Regions from separate parts of the Homo sapiens genome. Here all the other regions are linked to region 3. Evidence: fine-mapped expression QTL. A gene starts in region 3. Each other region holds a variant in brackets. All regions are shown on one strand. Distances are between the middles of the regions. Region 1 overlaps CDK5RAP3 (CDK5 regulatory subunit associated protein 3). Region 2 has its middle 40 kb from the start of SKAP1. Region 3 holds the start of HOXB2 (homeobox B2). Region 4 has its middle 16 kb from the start of HOXB1.

Evidence for each region. PIP is the estimated chance that this variant, and not a neighbour inherited with it, causes the effect. A credible set is the group of variants that fine-mapping cannot tell apart.
Region 1: its variant is the best candidate, but not a certain one, in a credible set for the expression of HOXB2 in whole blood (TOPMed, PIP 0.75).
Region 2: its variant is the best candidate, but not a certain one, in a credible set for the expression of HOXB2 in blood mononuclear cells (TOPMed, PIP 0.82).
Region 4: its variant is the best candidate, but not a certain one, in a credible set for the expression of HOXB2 in whole blood (TOPMed, PIP 0.76).

What each region holds. Positions count from the first base shown.
Region 1 is chr17:47,979,204-47,984,336 of GRCh38, forward strand. CDK5RAP3 (CDK5 regulatory subunit associated protein 3) reads left to right here. Exons shown (of 14, transcript NM_176096.3): 12 at 1,390-1,595; 13 at 1,960-2,131; 14 at 2,234-2,578. The coding sequence ends at 2,299. Among named protein-coding and RNA genes, the nearest start is that of CDK5RAP3, 11 kb to the left of the region's middle. The variant T/C (reference allele first, on the strand shown) is at 2,502.
Region 2 is chr17:48,467,867-48,472,997 of GRCh38, forward strand. No RefSeq gene overlaps it. Among named protein-coding and RNA genes, the nearest start is that of SKAP1, 40 kb to the left of the region's middle. The variant G/A (reference allele first, on the strand shown) is at 2,388.
Region 3 is chr17:48,542,267-48,547,393 of GRCh38, forward strand. HOXB2 (homeobox B2) reads right to left here and starts at 2,843. Exons shown (of 2, transcript NM_002145.4): 1 at 2,255-2,843; 2 at 389-1,481. The coding sequence starts at 2,645. The coding sequence ends at 802. It overlaps HOXB-AS1 (HOXB cluster antisense RNA 1), which reads left to right and starts at 2,085. Exons shown (of 7, transcript NR_102279.1): 1 at 2,085-2,146; 2 at 2,855-3,091; 3 at 3,229-3,298. RefSeq lists a silencer at 969-1,258 and an enhancer at 1,066-1,711.
Region 4 is chr17:48,512,489-48,517,632 of GRCh38, forward strand. No RefSeq gene overlaps it. Among named protein-coding and RNA genes, the nearest start is that of HOXB1, 16 kb to the right of the region's middle. RefSeq lists enhancers at 1,713-1,762, 4,040-4,550. The variant G/A (reference allele first, on the strand shown) is at 2,329.

The sequences.
Region 1 (5,133 bases), 560 kb before region 3:
AAGAAGATAAATAAATAAAATATGCAGGATGCTAGATGGCACCAAATGCCACGGAGAAAGAGAAAGTAGGGGAGGATGACGAGGATGTTGGAAAGGGCTATGGTTTTGTATCTGGTGGTCAGGGAAGGCCTCATTGAGAAGGTGACCTGTAATCAAGACTGCAGGCGGTGCAGAGAGAACCATGCAGATGTCTGGCAGAAGGGCTTCCCAGGCAGAGAGAGCAAGTGCAGAGGTCCCGAGGTGGGAGCAGACCTTGCACAGTTGACCAGCAACATGGAGGCTGGTGTGGCTGAGGAGAGAGAGCTGGTGGGGAGTAGAAGAGCTCAGAGATGTAGCGTCTGAACCTTGGTTTGCCTCTGAGTGAACTGGGAAGCTGTTGGAGGTTTCGAGCAGGTTAGGAACATGATCTCATTTGTGTTTAAGGACGATCCCTGTGGCTAAGGTGTTGAGCAGCCCAGCGTAAGGAGCCAGCGTTCTTGGACCTTTGTTGTAAGGCTGGGAGGACGGGGTCCTGTCTTTGTTAATCTCTGTATCTGCTCCCTTCCCAGTAGCCTGCTGGTTCGGAGAGCCTCCTGAAAGTTCTGTCCTCACCCAGTTCTCTCCTCTTTCTGCCCAGAGGCTCCTCCCAGCCTCAAGGGGAGAGGACAAAAGATATCTGTGAAGTTTTAACGGCAGAATAGGATTGATAAGTTAATATGGCTGGCTCTTGTATTCTTTTCAGCCTTGCCTTAATCCAGTGCTTCTCAAACATGTATTTCTGTTCCCTGAATCTCATTCCTCCCATGGAGACAAAATAAATACCTTCCCTGGGCAGAGAGAACCCTTTGAGTCTCTGTATTCTCAGTTATCTGATCCCAGGCTGGGGAGAAAGGACAGAGGTCTGGGGTTAGGATGAGATAGGAGGTGGGGACTGAAGGGTGACAGTAGTCTCTCCTAGCGCTTACAGTGTTCAGAGGAAACTCCTTACCCAGAGTCTAGCCCTCATGTCTCATTTTTGCATTTCGAGTAGTCCGAGGGCTTAGATTCTGAGTTCTTCTCTCAGTTTGAACCAATTTATCTTCTTTTTTTCTTTCTTCCTTTTTTTTTAAAAAGAGTTTCTCTGTCGCCCAGTCTGGAGTGCAGTGCAGCAATCATAGCTCACTATAACCTCAAACTCCTGGGCTCAAGTGATCCTCCCGCCTCAGCCTCCTGAGTAGCTGGGACTACAGGCATACACCACCATGTTTGGCTAATTTTAAACATTTCTGTAGAGACAGGGTCTCATCGTTTCCCAGGCTGGTCTTGAACTCCTGGCCTCAAGCGATCCTCCTGCCTTGGCCTCCCACAGTGCTGGAATTGCAAGTGTGAGCCATCATGTACAGCCTGAACCAATCTTTCTTCTGTCCTCAGCTTGAGATCTTCTTAGCCCAGAGAGCAGTGGAGTTGAGTGAGGAGGCAGATGTCCTGTCTGTGAGCCAGTTCCAGCTGGCTCCAGCCATCCTGCAGGGCCAGACCAAAGAGAAGATGGTTACCATGGTGTCAGTGCTGGAGGATCTGATTGGCAAGCTTACCAGTCTTCAGCTGCAACACCTGTTTATGATCCTGGCCTCACCAAGGTCTGGCTTCCCCTTGATGCAAGGCTCTGCCATCTTGAGCAGCTCTGCCTCCTTGTATTCCTCCTCTTGTTCCATGACCCCTTAAACCCCATCCCTGCCTCCTGGCCATTGCCATCCACTGGGGATAGGGGTTCTCTTTGGGACAAGAGGGGGAGGTTTCACATATACAGGAAGAATCTGCTTGCTTCCTGAGTAGGACAGGGGAACTGGGAGTGGGTTTTCCTTAAAAGGAAAGGGTTTAAGGATGTGAGGGTAAGCGGCCAGTTGGGGGTTTGGTTTCCCGAGCCTCTCACCTCCCCAGCAGCTGAATGGGAATGCTCAGGATGCACAGCTAACCCAGCACTCACCTGAGTGCCCCGCACAGGTATGTGGACCGAGTGACTGAATTCCTCCAGCAAAAGCTGAAGCAGTCCCAGCTGCTGGCTTTGAAGAAAGAGCTGATGGTGCAGAAGCAGCAGGAGGCACTTGAGGAGCAGGCGGCTCTGGAGCCTAAGCTGGACCTGCTACTGGAGAAGACCAAGGAGCTGCAGAAGCTGGTGAGATGGGAAAGGGAGGCCTGCCAGTGGGAGGACTCCCAGTCTGTGCAAAATGAGGCCCTGAGCACCCCTGCTTCTGCCCACTTGGTATCACTCTTTCAGATTGAAGCTGACATCTCCAAGAGGTACAGCGGGCGCCCTGTGAACCTGATGGGAACCTCTCTGTGACACCCTCCGTGTTCTTGCCTGCCCATCTTCTCCGCTTTTGGGATGAAGATGATAGCCAGGGCTGTTGTTTTGGGGCCCTTCAAGGCAAAAGACCAGGCTGACTGGAAGATGGAAAGCCACAGGAAGGAAGCGGCACCTGATGGTGATCTTGGCACTCTCCATGTTCTCTACAAGAAGCTGTGGTGATTGGCCCTGTGGTCTA[T/C]CAGGCGAAAACCACAGATTCTCCTTCTAGTTAGTATAGCGGACTTAATAAAAGAGGAAAAAACTCTTGCTTCAGTACTGACAGTTCCTTATGCTGCTTCTCTGAGCCTGCAGTTGAGGCTTCGCACCTGTTTTCGTGGGGTTCTTGATCCAGGTGGGCTCCCTGATCCAGGTGGGCTCCCCAGGCCATCAGCTGTCACTGTGGAGCCCCAAGTTGAGGACTTTTCCCCTTTGCTTCTGGTGATAAAGAGGACCCCACATCTACAAATGGTTCAGTAAGGGGCTCTGGGATGGCTACGTGTGGGCCCCTTTCCATAACCAGGCCCAGGCCGCCCGACTCAGGCCAGAAGCCCTGGGGGAGCGGTCAAGCAGCAGCCTTGTTGGAGCCAGCAAAGCTGCATTTTCCTTTTAATCACAGCTTACCTCCAGGCAGAGGGAAAATGCGGTTTGGGGAGGAAGGGTCTGATAAACAAGGTGGAGACAGGAGCTGTCACCTTCCCTGGCTGCCTGTCCACTTCCTGCCCATAACTGCCCGCTCTGTGATCGGATAGAGCCCACCCCAGGATAGCAGCCCTCTCCCAAGCCACCTACCCATCCCCATTTCCCAGGAAGGGTAGGGGTTGGGGGTGGCTGGCAATTCGATTTTAATTTCATAGCAGAGCAGTTGATTCATGGCTCTTTGTCGCTGGCGTTGACTCCCGTAATGACTTTCCATCAAAATGAAAAGTGGAGTGACACCACTCATTATTCCTGCTGCTTGTTATCTCAGTTCTGGGGAGGGCCACCCCCTCCCCACTGCCTTTCAGCCGTCCTGGACAGTGAGTGATGGCGCCTATTAATCACCGACCCCGCGGACTCCAGCCAAAGGAGAGAGAGATAAGGCAGCATGAACTGCTCGAAGCCGTTCCTATCAATTAATGTCAACCCACCACTTCCCCCCAATCTTTGCCTGGTCACCTCTTTCTGGGGGATCAGGGGCTGAAATGAGAAGTCCGGGAATTGGAAAAATATTGGTGTTGAACATGGAGGTAAGACTCCGCAGACTAGCAGGGTATAGAGGAGGTAAGTGGACTGCACTCTGGCCTCAACACTCAGGAGGGATGCTCTTGGCTTAGGGAACTGCCTGCTGCTCTTGGTCCCTCTCCCTCTGGGAGATTGCCTTCTAGCTCCTGCCCCACCTGTTCAGCTGCTGGCTCCGTTGGCCATCTGGCCAGCCTCTTGCAGTAGCAGTCAGTTCACTGAGGCATACTACCCTTGCCCACTCTAATGTCCTTTGCCCAGTCACCAGCTGTTACGCAGACTCCATTGCTTACAGCAATGGAGCTTCAGGGAGAAACCCCGTGGACCAGGTGACCATGGCAGACCGGGTTCAGGCCTCCAAAGCTTCTGCCCCTGCGCTTGCAGATGAGCACCTGACCTGCTTTCCCAGCCCTGCCTAAGGTCAGCGAGGGGAAGCAGTGCTCACTGAGGTTTGGCTATTTTCCCAGGAAGGGAAGTGGGTTTAGATAGAGTTTTCTCAGCTGATTTTGGCCCCCTTGGTAAGCAGTGTGGTTAGGCCACTGCTCTGGATCAGAGATACTAGGTGACTGCTTAACAGGTGACATCAAGGCCCACCCTGATCCCCAGGCTGAGGCAAGTGGTTTCATGAAAGCCTTTAACTCGATAACATTGGGTTTGTTCTCCAGAACCTTTAGCCTCCCTTTCCTTTACCGCCGCCTGCTTCCTGAGTCCAGCCCTCCTGGCCATGCTGAAGGCACTGAAGGGATCCACCCGGCTGGTTCTCCCTGGCAAGAGCAGCTCTGTGTCTTTCAGGTCTGCCTCCAGCTTCCCTGAGCTTCACTGGTTGTATTTGGGTTCCTGCTTGTGTATCTCAGAATGCCCTCAGAAGTCGTTGTAGGGACAGAATGAGTTAAGATATGCAGAGCTCTTAGAACGCTGCCTGGTGCGGAGGAGGCTCTTGGTGGACATGTGTGAGCTCTTATTTTTGGTTTGGGGAACCATGATGAGGACTCTCCATCCTGGCCTAACTTGTCTTCTTGGAAAGGAGAGGTGAGGGGCTTTAGGGGAGCTTGAGACCAAGTTTCAAGCAGTCAGGTTGAAACTTCCCTCTTTCAGGGAAAGAGGGAAGCGGTGCACCAAGATTACACCCTCAGAATCCTTAGTTTGATGTGAATTATGCTGCCAAGAGCACACTATACTTTTGTGTTGACTTTTATCCCACCTCTTTCCAGAGAGGATTTAAGGCAACGCCTCTCACTACTTGGCTAAGACTCCTCACCCGGCTTCAGATAAGGAAGCAGCGAGTCACCTTTCCAAAATTCTCTGCTTGCTAAATCCAGCCATGGCTCAGCCCCACTCACTGCCTCTCTGCCCAAACATTGCCTCTCTCCCTGCGTCAGTTCTACCGTGTCCTCTCCGGTGTGGTTCTCTTTATAGACCACAAAAGTAGGATCCCTTTGCACTGCAGCCTGCAGTGGCTGACTGTGAACATGGGATAAGTGGAGTGCTAAGGCTCGTTCATCTGGGCCCCAGCGGTCCACCCCCTGTGCCCCTCTGAGGGCCTGCCAGTATCATGGGGAGTCTGGCACATCTAGAATTCCTTTCCTATTGCCAGTTCAGAGCAGGGAACAAGC
Region 2 (5,131 bases), 74 kb before region 3:
ACTTTACCTGAAGTTTTTATAGGGAAACAGGAGAATGCATTTATAATTTTTTATGCAGCAAGCCACTGGAAAAGGCTGAGGGTAGCATCAGGATATTTATTCCCCCAGCTGGGCCTCAGGTTGACAGTGGCTATGTTCCTCAACTAAAGGCCACAGCTCCTGTGGGCCAACCCTCTCCTACAACTCTCTCCAGACTGTGAGGACTGCTCCTTCCCAATCCTTTAGGCCTCGAGTGGTCATTATTCCCTATTCTGGCTAACCGCACCATTTCTTATGGGTTTCTCTGAACCCTGCCCATATCTTTGTAAATATGCCTGCATTAAACTTTACTCAGACAAACCCCATTTGAGTGTGCCATCTGTTTTCCAACAGGACTGTGATCAATAAGGTACCCTGGAGAACAGAACCAGAAAGAATTCTTGCTCATGGCTAGGGAATTGACCTAGATGAGTATTTTCAATTAAAGAATCTTTGAGATCGAAATAACCATTTTTCAATTCAGCATGTTATTTCTTCGTGAATCTTGTTTTTAGAAATGAAAAATATATCACAGAAGCACTTGGCACTTTCTCCAACATGCCTCAGCTTCTGTGCTCCGGCCTGCCTGAGTGCAGGTGCAAGTGCAGGTCACAAGGAGGGAAGTGAAGCTGCCACATTCTTGCTCATGAGCACTGATTGTTAAACTGTCAAGAATTTTGCAAAAATAAATTGTTTTTAAAAAGAACTAAAATTGGCCAGATGTTGTGGCTCATGCCTGTAATCCCAGCACTTTCAGAGGCCGAGGCAGGCACATCACCTGAGGTCAGGAGTTGGAGACCAGCCTGGCCATCATGGTGAAACCCTGTCACTACTAAAAATACAAAAATCAGCCAGGCATGGTGGTGGGTGCCTATAATCCCAGCTACTCAGGAGGCTGAGGCAGGAGAGTTTCTTGAACCCAGGAAGCAGAGGTTGCAGTGAGCTGAGATCACACCATTGCACTCCAGCCTGGGCAATAAGAGCAAAACTCCGTCTCAAAAAAAAAGAAAAGAAAACAAACTAAAATGGTATAAAGTTACAATAAATTATATGTATATATATACAAACATATATATTTATGCACACACACACACACACACATATATATATAGGTTTTTTTGAGACTGAGTCTCATTCTGTCACCCTTGAACCTCCCAGGTTCAAGCGATTCTCATGCCTCAGCCTCCCAAGTAGCTGAGATTACAGGTGTGTGACAAAATGCCTGGCTAATTTTTGTATTTTTATTAGAGACGGAGTTTTGCCATGTTGGCCAGGCTGGTCTTGAACTCCTGACCTCAAATGATCCTCCCGCCTCAGCCTCCCAAAGTACTGGGATTATAGGTGTGAGCCACCGTGCCTATACGTGGCCCAAATTATATTAAAAGAAAAAAAGATACTAAATATCATCACTTCCTAATTATTTTGCTAAATTTCATTGCTATCTAACCTTTTAGGGTTATTTATGTCTGGTGTACCTAGGTGGTAGAAACACTATAACTGCACATCTCTTCCTAATCCTGTTTTCAATGATGTCATGAAGAAAGTTGAAATCAGGCATGGTGGAATTATTTACACCAAGGAAATAGACGAATGCAACAAATCAGGACTTAACTTTTTTTCTGGAAAGCTGTTTGTTAAATATTTTCCAGGAGAAAGGGAATCCTTTGAGATGATCATGTTATTTGGACTTGTGTGGTTTTAAGGGAGATCCATATGCTTGGTTTCTATTGTGAGAAAGCAAAGTGCAATAGACTTGGCACTGGACTAGAAAGGACAAACTAAACTGTTCTCTCTAAACAGGAGTGAAGGTTAGTTCTCTTTGGCTTCTTAGGACAGGATGGATTAAGTAGACCTTTTAGCATGGGGAGATGTGTATTATATTAATAAATAGCTTTCTTTCACAGTTGTTTGTTTAAAATCTCTGAAAGTACTTTACATCTATGACCTCTTTCATCTATCAAGTATCTGAGTGACCAAGGAAAGAAGCAATAAAGATTTTTGTGTTTTTTTTGTGACAGAGTCTCGCTCTGTCACCTAGGCTGGAGTGCAGTGGCACAATCTTGGCTCACTGCACCCTCTGTCTCCTGGGTTCAGGCAATTCTCCTGCCTTAGCCTCCCGAGTAGCTGGGACTACAGGCGCACGCCACCATGCCCGGCTAATTTTTGTATAGAGATGGGGTTTTGCCATGTTGGCCAGGCTGGTCTCGAACCCCTGGCATCAAGCAATCCACCTGCTTCAGCCTCCCAAAATGCTGGGATTACGGGAGTCAGCCACTGTGCCCAGCCAAGATACTTCTTAAATATAGAAAAACTGGGGACCCATGGAGGTTAAGTGACCTTTTTAACCTCAAAAACTGAGGCCCAGAAGG[G/A]CAACGCACTACAGTATCCAGAGCCCTCCTCCAACAGCTGTCACTTGTGTGACCTTGAGCAAGTTGTCCATATTTTCTGAGCCTGTATCTTCATCTGTGAAAAGTTATAGGGGAAATAAATGAAAGAATATGTGTAAATCACCAGATTTTGTGATTGATGTTCTAAAAATTGTGAGTTTAATAGATATACTCAAAGATTTTGTAGGGGAGAAAGAGAGAGCTTACATTATGCAGCACAGACAACTTGAAGGGGCACAATGGGCATCATTGTTGTTAAACACCCATTTGTCAATCCAACGGTATGGAGTTTCACTTCTCCCTTCTCCACACCTGGCCTCTCTCCATCCCGTTGGTGCCTTGCTCCTCCTCCTCTTTTTTCTCTTCTCTCTCTCATGCAGAGCAATATTCTCCCTTCTCTGAAGTTGTGAGCACATCTGCCATGTGTTAAGCACATCAAGGCATTCTTCTAAGCAGAATTCCCTTCCTAAGAGAAATTCTGTTAGTAAAGTTGTTACTTTATTATACATACGGAATCATTTGCAAAGGGTATTCCCATTCACTATTTCCTTTGAATCTCAGAGCCACCCTGTGGCAAGAATTACAATTATAACCACTTTACATTGGGAGATACCGAAGCTTAGGGAATTGCTCAGGGTCATAACTTAAAAGTGGCTGAGGGGCTGAGCGTGGTGACTCATGCCTGTAATTCCAGCACTTTGAGAGGCTGAGGCAGGAGGATCTCTTGAGCCCAGGAGTTCAAGACCAGCCCGGGGAACATAGTGAGATCTTGTCTCAACAAAATATTTTTAAAATTAGCTGGGGGTGTTTCTCCCAGCTACTTGGGAGGCTAAGGTGGGTGGATCACTTGAGCCTGAGAGGTTGAGGCTGTGGTGAGCCATGGTCACACCACCGCACTCCAGCCTGGGTGACAAAGCATAAGAGACCCTGTCTCAAAAAAAAAAAAAAAAAAAAAAAAAAAGACTGAGGCAGGAATTGAACCTGGCAAGGTACCTCACAGCATGCTGGTCGTGCTTCCTCACTCTTCAGAGGCGGCATGTTCTAGTTGGCCTCCTGAAGGAAACTACTAATTTTGTTTTCTCTGCCATTCAGTGAGCATCTAGATTGAGAGCCCCACATAGGTCACTTCCTGAGCAAGATGTCAGGAGCTGGGTTAGGGTTGTAATTCCTTTCCTAGCTTGTTGTACAGCCTCGAGCAAGGAGAAGATTTGAGAGGCAGAAAGGTAGCGCGTTGGGAAAAAATGCTATGTTCCAGGCATTATATGCTAGAACTTTACATTGATTACTTCATCTAATCTTCACTAGAATTCTGTGTGAGATAGCATCAATATTTTAATTTTAAGTAAAATTAAATTGTGGAAACTGAGGCTCAAAGAGCTGATGAAATTTGTTCATGGTCATACGGATAAGAAATGATGGAGATGGGATTTGAATCTTTGTCTCTGGGACTCTAAATTCTATCTGCATTTCCTCATGTCATGTTGTCCCTCTGGGCCTTGGGGCCTTTTTAAAATGTAAATCCAGGCAACTAACTCCTCTGAATCCCACCTCACATGTCTGTCAACTGCTGGATTATGTTCCTAATCCGGCAGGGGTCGCAAGGCTGGGAAACCTTCATGCCACTATCAATCTTCTCCCCAGTTCAGAGGTCAGAGGCTCTCTTTACTCCAGCCCCCTCCTCCACCTCTGGGATGGGGCCACATTTCACCTGAGGATTAACAGCCACACCTCTCTACTTCTGCGGAGGATAGAGGGCGACTATGAAGGATGGTGTGTCTCCCCACCCACATCTCATACCTAGCCTGGGGCGGACTGTTCATTAGGGGCAGGCAGGGAGGAGGCGAACCAAGATAGCACAGAGATCCATCAAGGTGCCAAGCTGACAGGTGCACACACCTGTTTCTAGCCAGAGGAGCTAGAGGCCAGTGGGAACCTGCCTCATAGGAGAGGACTTTGTCTGGAAAGAGAAGGGAGGAAGAAAAAACAACAACAGCAACTGAGAGTGGATCACTCTAATTACATGGCTCTAAATCACCGAGAAGAACCTTGGCTCAAACATCCAAGTGGTGGAGGATGGATTTTTACCTTGACTCCCGCTAATTTTCATTGATTTATGGGGCTTGAAAGCATTTATTTTCTGCTCAGAGGCAGCCCAGCTCCTGCTAAGGAGGTGCAGGACTCCCCTAAATGCTGTCACCATGGAGAGGCGAGCAGCAGAGGTGGCTCTCAGGGCAACAGCTACATTTCCTGCTCAGTTCCAGTTGCTACCTAAGAGCTGGGAGGGTCCAATGGGAGCTGCTGGCCCTGCTGTGACAGCCTCCCCACTCCTGTCCCCAGAGCCTGCCTGCTTCTGGTCACAGCTACTTGAGTTTAACACTCCTGGCAGCTTAGCACTCTGGTTTTTATGTGTGAAGCCGTAATATTTGGTGAGCTGTGAGATGAGGTGGCAAGATTTGCAACTGGCATTCCCTTCCGGCCCTGCCCTGTGATTCAGGTCAGTGGTGTGACAAAGTGAGGCCACCCCTCCTCCCCACTCTGGCTTCCCACCTGTGGCTATTTGGAATGATGTCTTTCCTTCGTTTTCTCCTCTTCCCCCATCCCATGCCTGATAGACTCCCGTAGCTCTTGGCTTTCAAAAGGGGGTATTCAGTCCTCACATTCCAAACCATCTGCTCAATTAAACATTTTAAACAGCAATTCTGAGTCTGCCCAGGACCACATTCCAA
Region 3 (5,127 bases):
AGTAAACTTCTGCCCCCGCCACGACCCTGAAGACTGTCCACAGGCTTCCTCTCCTTTCACCCTCCTCTGTTCGCTGTACACTCTCTCCCTCGACCTGCCCATCTCTATTTCCAAGCAGAGGCCCCAGAACCACCCGCTCAGGACCAAAGACCCTCTGCTGAGGGGCGGGGAGGTGACCCAGCTTCCTGCAAACTCCCGACTTTTGCCGGAGCCGTGGGCGAAGCGGCCATCAATCGGGTCACCTTTGTACCACCCGGACTTCGCCGGCCCTGGAGGCTTTGCTGCCATATGGGCCGCTGAACCTAATCAACTTCGCACAGGTCCTGGAGGGGTGAGGACCGGCCTTGGGGCCGCGGGGAAAGAGTTTAGGTCCCAACACAAACACTCGTTTTGGTATTATAAAGACATTTATTTAATCTATGAAAATAATGTACAATAAATACTTTCCCCTTTTCCTATTATTAAAGAATTTTAATAAATAATCTACAGTCTAAAACATAAAAAAGAGGAAAATAGGTCCCTCTAGTTATTTTTAAGAAAGTCCCCCTAGAGTTTAATTATTCCTGAGATTTCATTGGAAGGAGTCTACCAAACGGAATTTTTCTGTGTGAATTTTAAAAGATAACCGAGTGCCCAATATTTTAGAAGAAGAAGAAAGGGAGTGGATTAAACGCTAATTCAGTAATACCTGAATTTTAGCAAAACACATAAGTCTATGCGACTGAGGGTGGGAGAGGCTCGATTTTTCCAGTAGACGGCCAAGGAGCGCGGGGGTCGAAAGGACCGGGAGGAGGAAACAGGTTAGGGAAACTGCAGGTCGATGGCACAGAGCGTACTGGTGAAAAAATCCAGCTCTTCCTCGGAAAAAGGGACCGGGCTGTCGAGAGAACCCTGTAGGCTAGGGGAGAGGCCTCCGGATAGCTGGAGACAGGAGTCGGCCGCGAAGAAGTTGAGGTCGGGAAGGAAAGGTGAATCCTGGCGCCCCGAGAAGACGTCTTCTGGCAATGGCCCGGGCTCCAGCCCGCCGGCCCCGCGCAGCGCGCAGCCGGGACTCGACGCGCCTGCGCCCTCTAAGCGAACGGCTAAAGGCCGGGGGTCCGCGCTTAAGGCCCCCGGCACCACCTCCGGCGGGTGACAGCAGGCTTCCCACGCCGCCCGCGAGGCGGAGGGGCCGCCCGGGCTGGCCGCGGGTTCCTCGGCAGGGTCGCAGATGTCCTCCAGGGCTCCCGGGCAGGCAGGCTCCCCATCCGGCGGCTCTCGGTGCTGCGTCTGCCGCTTGTGCTTCATGCGCCGGTTCTGAAACCAGACTTTGACCTGCCTTTCGGTGAGGTCCAGCAAGGCCGCGATCTCGACGCGGCGTGGCCGGCACAGGTACTTATTAAAGTGGAATTCCTTCTCCAGTTCCAGCAGCTGCGTGTTGGTGTAAGCCGTGCGCAGCCTGCGCGCCCCGCCGCCACCAGCCTCCGGCAGTCCCAGGCCATCTGCAGGGAAAACAGGCTCGGCGTCATAGCGGGCCGTGTACTCAGCCCAACCTCAGTTCGGACTACCCCATCCTCCAAAACCAGTATCACCTCTCCCCTTCCTCGCCACCCCACCCCCGCCCCCACCCCAAAGCCGCTCGCTTTACTGCTTTTGGGTTTTCTTCTCTCCCTCTCTAGTCTACAGCCCCGGCCCGGGTCAGGGCAAAGCATTCAGAGCCGCCCACGGGCCACGCAGGGGGCGGAGAGCGGCTCCCTTCGGCGCCGGAACCTCAGATCCCCCTCCCAAGCCCTCCCAGTGGACCCCTCAATTCGGAACTTTCCAACTCAACCGGAGCGAGGGTCAGAAAGATTGTTCTTCACCCCTCTTCCTCCCTAGCTCTGAATTCTTCCTCTTCTCCTAGAGTTGGGGCAGAAAGGACCGAATCTTTTCTGCTTCTAGGGTCTATCCCAGCAACAACATACTCATTCCCCTACACAGATACGGGTGAAAACCTCAATCAAATCATTTTCTTCTAGCAGAAAAAAAGGCGTTTCCCCAACCAGCTTCCAAAATCAGCCATAGGGAGAGAAAGAGAGAGAGAGACAGAAAAAAAAAAAGACGCTGTTAGCGGCCAGGCCTGAACCCCAGTGGGATATTCTACTTCCCCATCCCAGGAATGGAGGGGGTAAGGAACCCCAACAGGCTCGCCACCATTTTTTTTAAACCTCCTTCCACTGCTTTTTCTCCCCCTCTTCTAGCTGCCCCTCACCCCACCCCCACCACGCTTACCGACCTGCAGGCGATCCGACCCCGGAGGCCGGAACGGCGGAGGCGGCCGGAGAAGGAGACGTGGCGGATTGGCTGGGTTTCTTGGCGGATTTCTTCTCTTTCATCCAAGGGAACTCGGGGGCCGGGGGGGCAGCGGGGAGTGGCGGCGGCGGTGGCGGCGGCAGAGCAGGCCCATCTTCGGCTCGCTTTTGGCTCCTGGGTCTCTGAAGGGTGGAGGCGCCGGGCTGGAGGCTGGGGAAGGTTTGCTCGAAAGGAGGAGGAGGAGGAATTAATGTCGACTCCTTGATTGATGAAGTTTGAAATGTCTCCAAGACAGCGGGGAAGGAAGTCAGACACTCGGCGAGCGACGGCTGGCTGTTTATAAACCCAATCTCCCTCTCAAATTCAAAATTCATGGCTTTCAATGGTGGGGGAGGGGGCTGCTGGGGGGGGCGTCAGGAGGGAGGATCGGAAGGGACCCCCCTCCTGCACCCCCCCCGATTTATGTAATGGAGCGATTTTGGGAGGGGGAGATTTCGGTCTCTCTTTTTTTTAATTTTGGGCCTTTATAATTGTATATTGCTGATAAATACAAGCGTATGGGGACTCTCTCTATTAAACCCAGGACTCCAGCGAAATTACAGGGAATTCGTGGTCACGGGACCGGCCTCCGCCAATCGCTCGTCTGGGCCTGGTGGAAAACAGAGAGCATTATTTGGTTTAATTGATTCAAAAACACCAGAGGACCACGACCAGGACACCATGAGCCCCCATTCCTACACCAGTGCCTCACATGCTCTCTCCCCAATGCCTCCGTTTCTCCAGAAAAGCTAGAGGAACCTTTTCCTCATCCCCTTCGAAGGTTAGAAGGTTTCAGAAGCCTGGAAAAGAAGAGACTCTAAGGGAGAAACCTTCCTCTTTTCCAAGTATTTTAATAGAGTAAATTAAGGCCTTCTTTACGTGGCCAGCAGCATCCCCTTCCCTTCTCCCCTTCCCCAGGAAAAGATGAGTGAGGATCTCCGCGTTGGAGGAAGAGGGAGTCGAAAGAGGCTTCCACTCTTTGAAAAAGGTCAGTATTAAGGTGAAAATAAGAAAGAGATTTACAATCATCACACCACTATCCCTGTTACCCTCCAAAAACAACAGTTAAATCTTGGGAAATGGACAGGAACTCCCAGGCAGACACATAGGAGTGAGATGGAGCATAAGGGGCATTTTTGGGCCTCTGGCCTCCATCGCTGTATGGTCTGGGTTCTCTTCTCTGCCCAGTGTTTGCAGCACTGCCTCTGCCCCTTATGTACCCCTGCTTTCCTCACTTTCAGGCTTCCATGCTTCTCTGTGACATCCCCCAAAAACAGGCAGAGTCTAAGATGTGCATGTACCCACTCAAGCCTCAAGCTTGTATCTGTATCCATATCCAGGGACATGAACAAGAACTGAGGTAGCCATTGGTTTAACTTAGAGCACTCTCAAAGTTCAGATCAGCGTTATGTGTGTGCATGAGTGTGGTGGGGAGATTTTCCCCTAGGACAAAGAGACTTTCCCTCCCATTTTTGCCATTGTGCTAGTTAAAAAAGAAAAAAGAAAAAAAAAAAAAAAAGAATCCCTGACAAGGAAGAATTCCCTGAAGATGGTAGGGGTGGAAATAATGACCACTGAGATGATATTCCATTTCTGGCTGCTGGGGGAAAATGTTTTTAAAATTTATTTTATTTTGAGGAGACCAAGATAGTCTGAAGTTTAGAGTGTTGTAATTTACTATGGGGAGAGGGCACAAGACTCTGAGCCCCAAGCAATTGGTGGGAAACTAGGCCTCAAAGCAGAAAATGAAAAGTCGATCTGGGGGAAGATTTTTAAATAAGTGGGTCAGACGGATGGAGAGGAGATGAGGCGATCAATCTTAGCCCCCTGACAGCTCCCTCCGATTGCATCAAAGAATTTGGCTCTTTGGGAAAGCAGAGCGAACAGCCAAAATTTCACATCCCTTAAAAAGGCCTGGGGGTGGGGGTGGGGGTGCAAAAGAGAAGGGTGATTCTGGGAGAGCTGGGAAACAGATGGGAAATGGGGACAGAGGGAAAGCGCTAAGTTGGGTGGAAAGTTTGCCTGGAGAACTCCCATGGCTTTGGCCTCCCCTCCCCCTCCTCTCTCTCTGCTGCCCAGCCAGGAGGAGAAGGCTGGTTAGCAGAGAAATGGCAACTGAGCCCGGAGCTGGAACTAGAAACTTTCTGTCAGTGTAACATCTGCGTGAGTACTTAAAAAGAAGGACAGAGAAGTCTGAGTAGAAGCATGAGGGTGGGGGAGAGGAGGATGGAGAAAGGGGAGTTGGAGGTGGGGGCTGCAGGGACCGAGGAGGCATGCTCTGGAGGGCTCAGAACAGAGAGAGCTGCTCTGACCTGGGCAAAGTGGCCAGCGACAGTAGTGTGCAACTAGGCTCCAAAGAAAACAATTTTTGCCATTTAGAGGTGTGGATGGGGGTGGGCATAGAATAATCCAAATAGTAGCTGTCTGGAAGTCATGCAGGGAGGCCTGAGAGTGGGTTCTCCCTCTGGCCACCCCCTTGAACACCTCTGAAAGTTTAGCAACAGCTTCTGTAGCTGGCTGAAGGATCCAGAGCTTATCTCAGGCAACTCGGGCAGACTGTCCCTGCAGGAAATACAGCTCTCTCTAACCCTCACTGACAGATTTTATGGCCAGATTAGCAAACAGCGGAAAACTTGGGTGTTAAAAGGGGCCCAGAGAACCCTCCTTTTCAGAGACATCCCTCCCCCGCCCCCCTGTCCTGCTGTGAATTTAACAGCACGGATATTTTACCCACGTCTTTGGCTGCTTTAGCTGAGCGCCTGGAATCTTCCAAAGAGAAGGATAGGGAACACCAAGCCAAGTTGGTTCTTATTTTTC
Region 4 (5,144 bases), 30 kb before region 3:
GTGAAACTCCAACTCAAAAAAAAAAAGAAAAGAACAGAAAGGACTTATTAAAAATCAAGATAGAAAGAGTGCCACTTTTGTTGTTGTTCTGTTTTGTTTTTGTTTTGAGACAGAGTCTCTGTCTCCCAGGCTGGGGTGCTGTGGCACAATCTCGACTCACTGCATCTTCTGCCTCCCAGGTTCAAGTGATTCTCCTGCCTTAGCCTCCCAAGTAGCTGGGATTACAGGCGCATGCCACCACACCGGGCTAATTTTTGTATTTTTAGTAGAGACAGGAGTTCACCATGTTGACCAGGCTGGTCTTGAACTCCTGACCTCAGGGGATACACCTGCCTCAGCCTCCCAAAGATTACAGGTGTGAGCCACCACGCCTGGCCAAGAGTGCCATGTTTTAGAGGGACAAGTAACCAAGTAAGACTGAATCTCAAGGAAATATGAAAAGCCAGAAACATTAGGAACATGGGTCACAGTTCTTAAAGGAGAGAGTTACTTAAGCACCAACCTTCTGTTTATCTTCTTCTTCCCATTTTCAGAGCCTGTCTCCTAAAACCCAATATCTTTTCGTTCTTAGAATTTTCTCTCCTCCCAGGTATCCTTGCATTTTAAGATTTGCAGATACAACCTGGAATTGGTCTCTTCCTCATTGTAGATTTCAGATTTTTTGACCCCACACAGTACGTCCTACCTGCCCACTCTGCCCTTTAATGGGCTTATCTTGGCTCTCTCGCCATGACACTCCCTGAAAGCTTGTCATGTGTGGAGAGCTCTCGGTTTCCTCTGATATCGCCTCCAGCTTATTGAAATTCCGTGGGCCTCCATTTCTGTAGCTACCAATCAGGGCTGATGATGGGAGAGGTGAAAGTGAAAGTGCAGGAGACTCATGAGGCTTTAACTTGGTCTTATAAAAAGAAGCTGTAAATCCCACCCCACCCCCTTATACTCTCACTGTCGTTTAATGATTTTTACTGATTCTCGGCAAAAATTGATATTCCCCTTGGTCAGGGGGCTGAGTGACTATCTGCAAAGTAAGTGAAATATTGCAGATTTGGAGTCCCTTAGCTTGTGAAAATTACCAAGACCCATTATTTCAGCTGGTTGTCTCCAGGCCGGCTCCAACATATGAAAAAAGAACTTGTAAGGTGCCTGGATCCTGCCTTCCCATAAACTATTTAATCTGTTTGACACCTCTTGCTGGTAAAAGCTCAGGTAAAGACATACTGAAGCTAGACGAGAGCTAGGATCTCTAAATATGTTGAAAATGTTATCTGTTCTTTCTCAAATATGTCTCTCCTATTCAGGTATTTGCTCTGTGATAGCCTTTTACCTTGGCAGCCACTGAGGCTCTGTGCCTTGTATTTCAAAACTGATAAGGAAAGGCAAGATCCTCCCACACTGTTCCCTCAGAGCACTTGGTGAGGATGGGCCATATGTGATGTGGACCGCGTGGCCTCGCTACCAGTGGCTCACCCACCTCCCCCTTCTTGTGCATGCCTTGCTCATCTAGAGAGCAGAAGGTAATGGGAAGGAGAAAATAAATGGGCTTTCTCTGAGGATCTCACACAGGCACTCCAGTGATCTCCTTATCTGCAGACTTGGCAAATTCTTTACAACATCTGATCAAGGAAGGGCTTTTTTGATGTTTCTGCATGTTCTCGATTTACTGCCCTGCTGCTGGGATATGACGAGATGCCTGTATCAGGAGCCCCTCAGAGCTTTCCAGATGGGCTGCAAAGTCTGCATATTTTTAAATAAACAACAAGCTAGTCTCAGAATGTGGCTTCTTTGGGGTTAAAGCAACATTTGCATAAAGCAGAAGAGCAGATGCCAGACCCAAGTTATCTACTGCCCCTAATCTGGCTCTGTGTCCCTTTCCTCTCCTCTGCCTGCCTCTCCCCATCATGTTAATTCTGCTGTCAGGACCCTCTACAGGTTCCCCAGGACCTGGGCTGAGTTATAGGATGGGAAGCTGCTTGTAGCCTCCAGGTTTCTGCCTTCCATCTGCCTTGCAGCTGGCTCTGCAGTCCAATGATGGGAGATTCACAGGTGAAAGGAGTTGGACATTTGGACTTTTGATCTGCTTATTCCCCAAAGTCTTCAAAGCTCTGACCCATATATCTACCATGATGGGGTTTTTAACAAGGTGGGGGAGGAAGCGATGTGCAGGGAGGCTGATTCATGTGAGGGCAGGAAACTGGGCAATGCTGTGGTCTCTAACTCTGGGACTGAAAGCCCCCACTTCTTACTCCTCCCTGTATCATGACTCCCACTATCTGGATAGTCATAGCATTCCATGCCCATTGGAAGGATTTAGAAAGAGATGTCCTCAAA[G/A]AAAACGCTTCTCAAATTCATTTTAATAACCCCCTTCTCATTTTCCCAGGCTTGCTGTGGTATAGAAACTGGAACCTTCAACTGCAAGATCAGTCACGTTCAAACAATATCTTTCCAAACATGGAGAAGACCACCCCAAGCGGAAGATCCCTAAAGCAAAACTACCCATCACCACCAAGCCATGGACTATTAGAGGTTTTCGCAAAATCTGAGTCAGTGTCTGACTTGGACTCTATTTGCAGTGATTCTCATCTTAAAGGGTTACACAGAGAGGGGTATTCTCTTGCTGAACCTGATGATCTTGGCTATTTGGGCAGTCTGCTTGATTTTTCTTTTCCAAAAGGAAAAAGAGGAGGGAGTGACCTAAGACGCTAAACAATGCTTGATGATCTGATACCTAGGGGTAGTGTTGAGGAGTAGGGAGAAAGAGAGGCCATCATCCTAAATGTACTGCATATTCAACATATGTAAATGTATATAAATTCTTGAGGACCAGAGGCAGAAAAAGAAAATTATATGTTGCTTTTCAGATATATGATCTGGAATACATTACTTATTTTCTCCAAGCCTTGGGCTCTTCATATGTAAAGTGAGAATAATGATCATACTAACCTCCCAGAGATGTAGTGAGAAATAAGCGCTAATAGCAAAGTGCTAGATAAATGTCAATAACAATAACGACAACAAAGCTAGTAACAGCTGCCACCAAGGAGGAAGGTGGGGATACAGTTTCATGAAAGAAATAGATAGTCAGGCATCGTAGCTCATGTCTGTAATCCCAGTGACTCAGGAGGCTGTGGCTGGAGGATTGCTTGAGCCGAGGAGTTCCAGACCAGCCTGGGCAACTTAGTGAGGCTCTGTCTCTAAAAAAAATGAAATAAATTCGTCAAGCGTGGTGACACACACCTGTAGTCCCAGCTACTTGGGAGGCTAACTTGTGAGGATCCCTTGAGATCTCTTGAGCCCAGGAGTTTGAGGCTGCAGTGAGCTATGATGGCATCACTATACCCCAGCACGGGCAACAGAGCTAGACCCTGTTTCTAAAAAAGAAAAGAAAAGAAAAGAGAGAGAGAGGAAAGAAAGAAAGAGAGGAAGAAGGAAGGAAAAAGGAAGGAAGGAAGGAAGGAAAAGGGAGGGAGGAAGGAAGGAAGGAAAGAAGGAAGGGAGGGAGGAAGAGAGAGAAGGAGGGAGGAAAGGAGGGAGGGAGGAAGAGAGAGAAGGAGGGAGGAAAGGAGGGAGGGAGGAAGAGAGAGAAGGAGGGAGGAAGGGAGGGAGGGAGGAATGAAGGAATTACCTGAACAGCAATGGAAAAGAGGAGTGGAAATAGTTAGCTTCCCTAGCCTAGGTCATCTGCACTTCCTTCCCTTGAGATAACAGGGCCTCTCCTTCTCACCTGTCCACATTGTTTCTCTGCACTAATGCTCCTTTCCCTTCTCATAAATTACAGATTCTACTCGGCAAATGTTTGCTTGCCACAAATGGCTGCTGATGTGGCAGCTCCCTTTCTGAGCTTGGAGATTTGTATGGATTAAGGTATCAGTGACTGATGCAGCCCCAGAGCTCAAGTAGATGGACACAATTTGCAAGAGAAAGAGAATTCCTCTCATTTCTCACTCCCAGCCTGCCCCATAGTCCTTCCCTGCCCCGGCTATCCTGCTTATGTCAATAGAAACACAGTGCTAGCTCAAGGGATATAGTATTCTCACTGTATTAGAATTTATCTGATTATACAATATTTTCTATTCAGTTCTGGATACCTCATTTTATAGAATATATTAACTAAGGAAGGAAGAACAGAGTGAGGAAAGATCTGGAAATCAGGTCTCAGGAGGAACAAATGAAGAAATTGAGAATGTATATTGCTCAACAGAGGGAAAGACCTATGGGCACACAGGACAGCTGTCTTCAAATATTTGGAGAGGTAGCGTAGGGAAAAGGAGTTAAGAGTTATTGTGTTGGCTCCAGAGGGCAACAAAGAAGTAGAATCAATGGGTGTAAGTGCCAAGAAGGCAAACTCCCATTCCATATAAAGAACCATTCTATCATTTACAGCAGCCTAACATTATGGGAGTCTTCCTTATAAATAGTGATCTCTGCCAGGCACAGTGGCTCATGCTTATAATCCCAGCACTTTGGGAGGCTGAGGAAGGCAGATCACTTGAGGTCAGGAGTTCGAGACCAGCCTGGCCAACATGAAGAAACCCCGTCTCTACTAAGAAATACAAAAATTAGCCAGGCATGGTGGCGGGTGCCTGTAATCTCAGCTACTTGGGAGGCTGAGGCAGGGAGAATTGCTTGAATCCAGGAGGTGGAGGTTGCAGTGAGCTGAGATTGTACCACTGCACTCCAGCCTGAGTGACAGAGCGAGACTCCGTCTCAAAAAAAAAAAAAAAAAAGAAAACAAACAAAAAACCAAAAACCCACCATCTCAGTCTTCTTGTTTTTTGAGACAGGGTCTCACTCTGTTGCCCAGGCTGGAGTGCAGTGGCGCTATCTTGGCTCACTGCAGACTGCCTCCTGGGCTCAAGCGATCTTCCACATCAGCCTCCTGAGTAGCTACAGGTATGCACTACCATGCCTGGCTAATTTTGTTCATTTTTTTATAGAGACAGTCTCCCTATGTTGCTCAGGCTGGTCTTGAGCTCCTGGGTTCAAGGGGTCCTCCCACCTTGGCTTCCAAAAGTGTTGGGTTTACAGGTGTGAGCCACTGCAACCAGCCTCCAGCTGAGATTTAAAGCCTGCCTCAATTGAAAGGAGAGGATGGAAGAGGGCTCCTCTAGGTTTCCACATGACCCAAGAGAAGAATCTGAGTTATT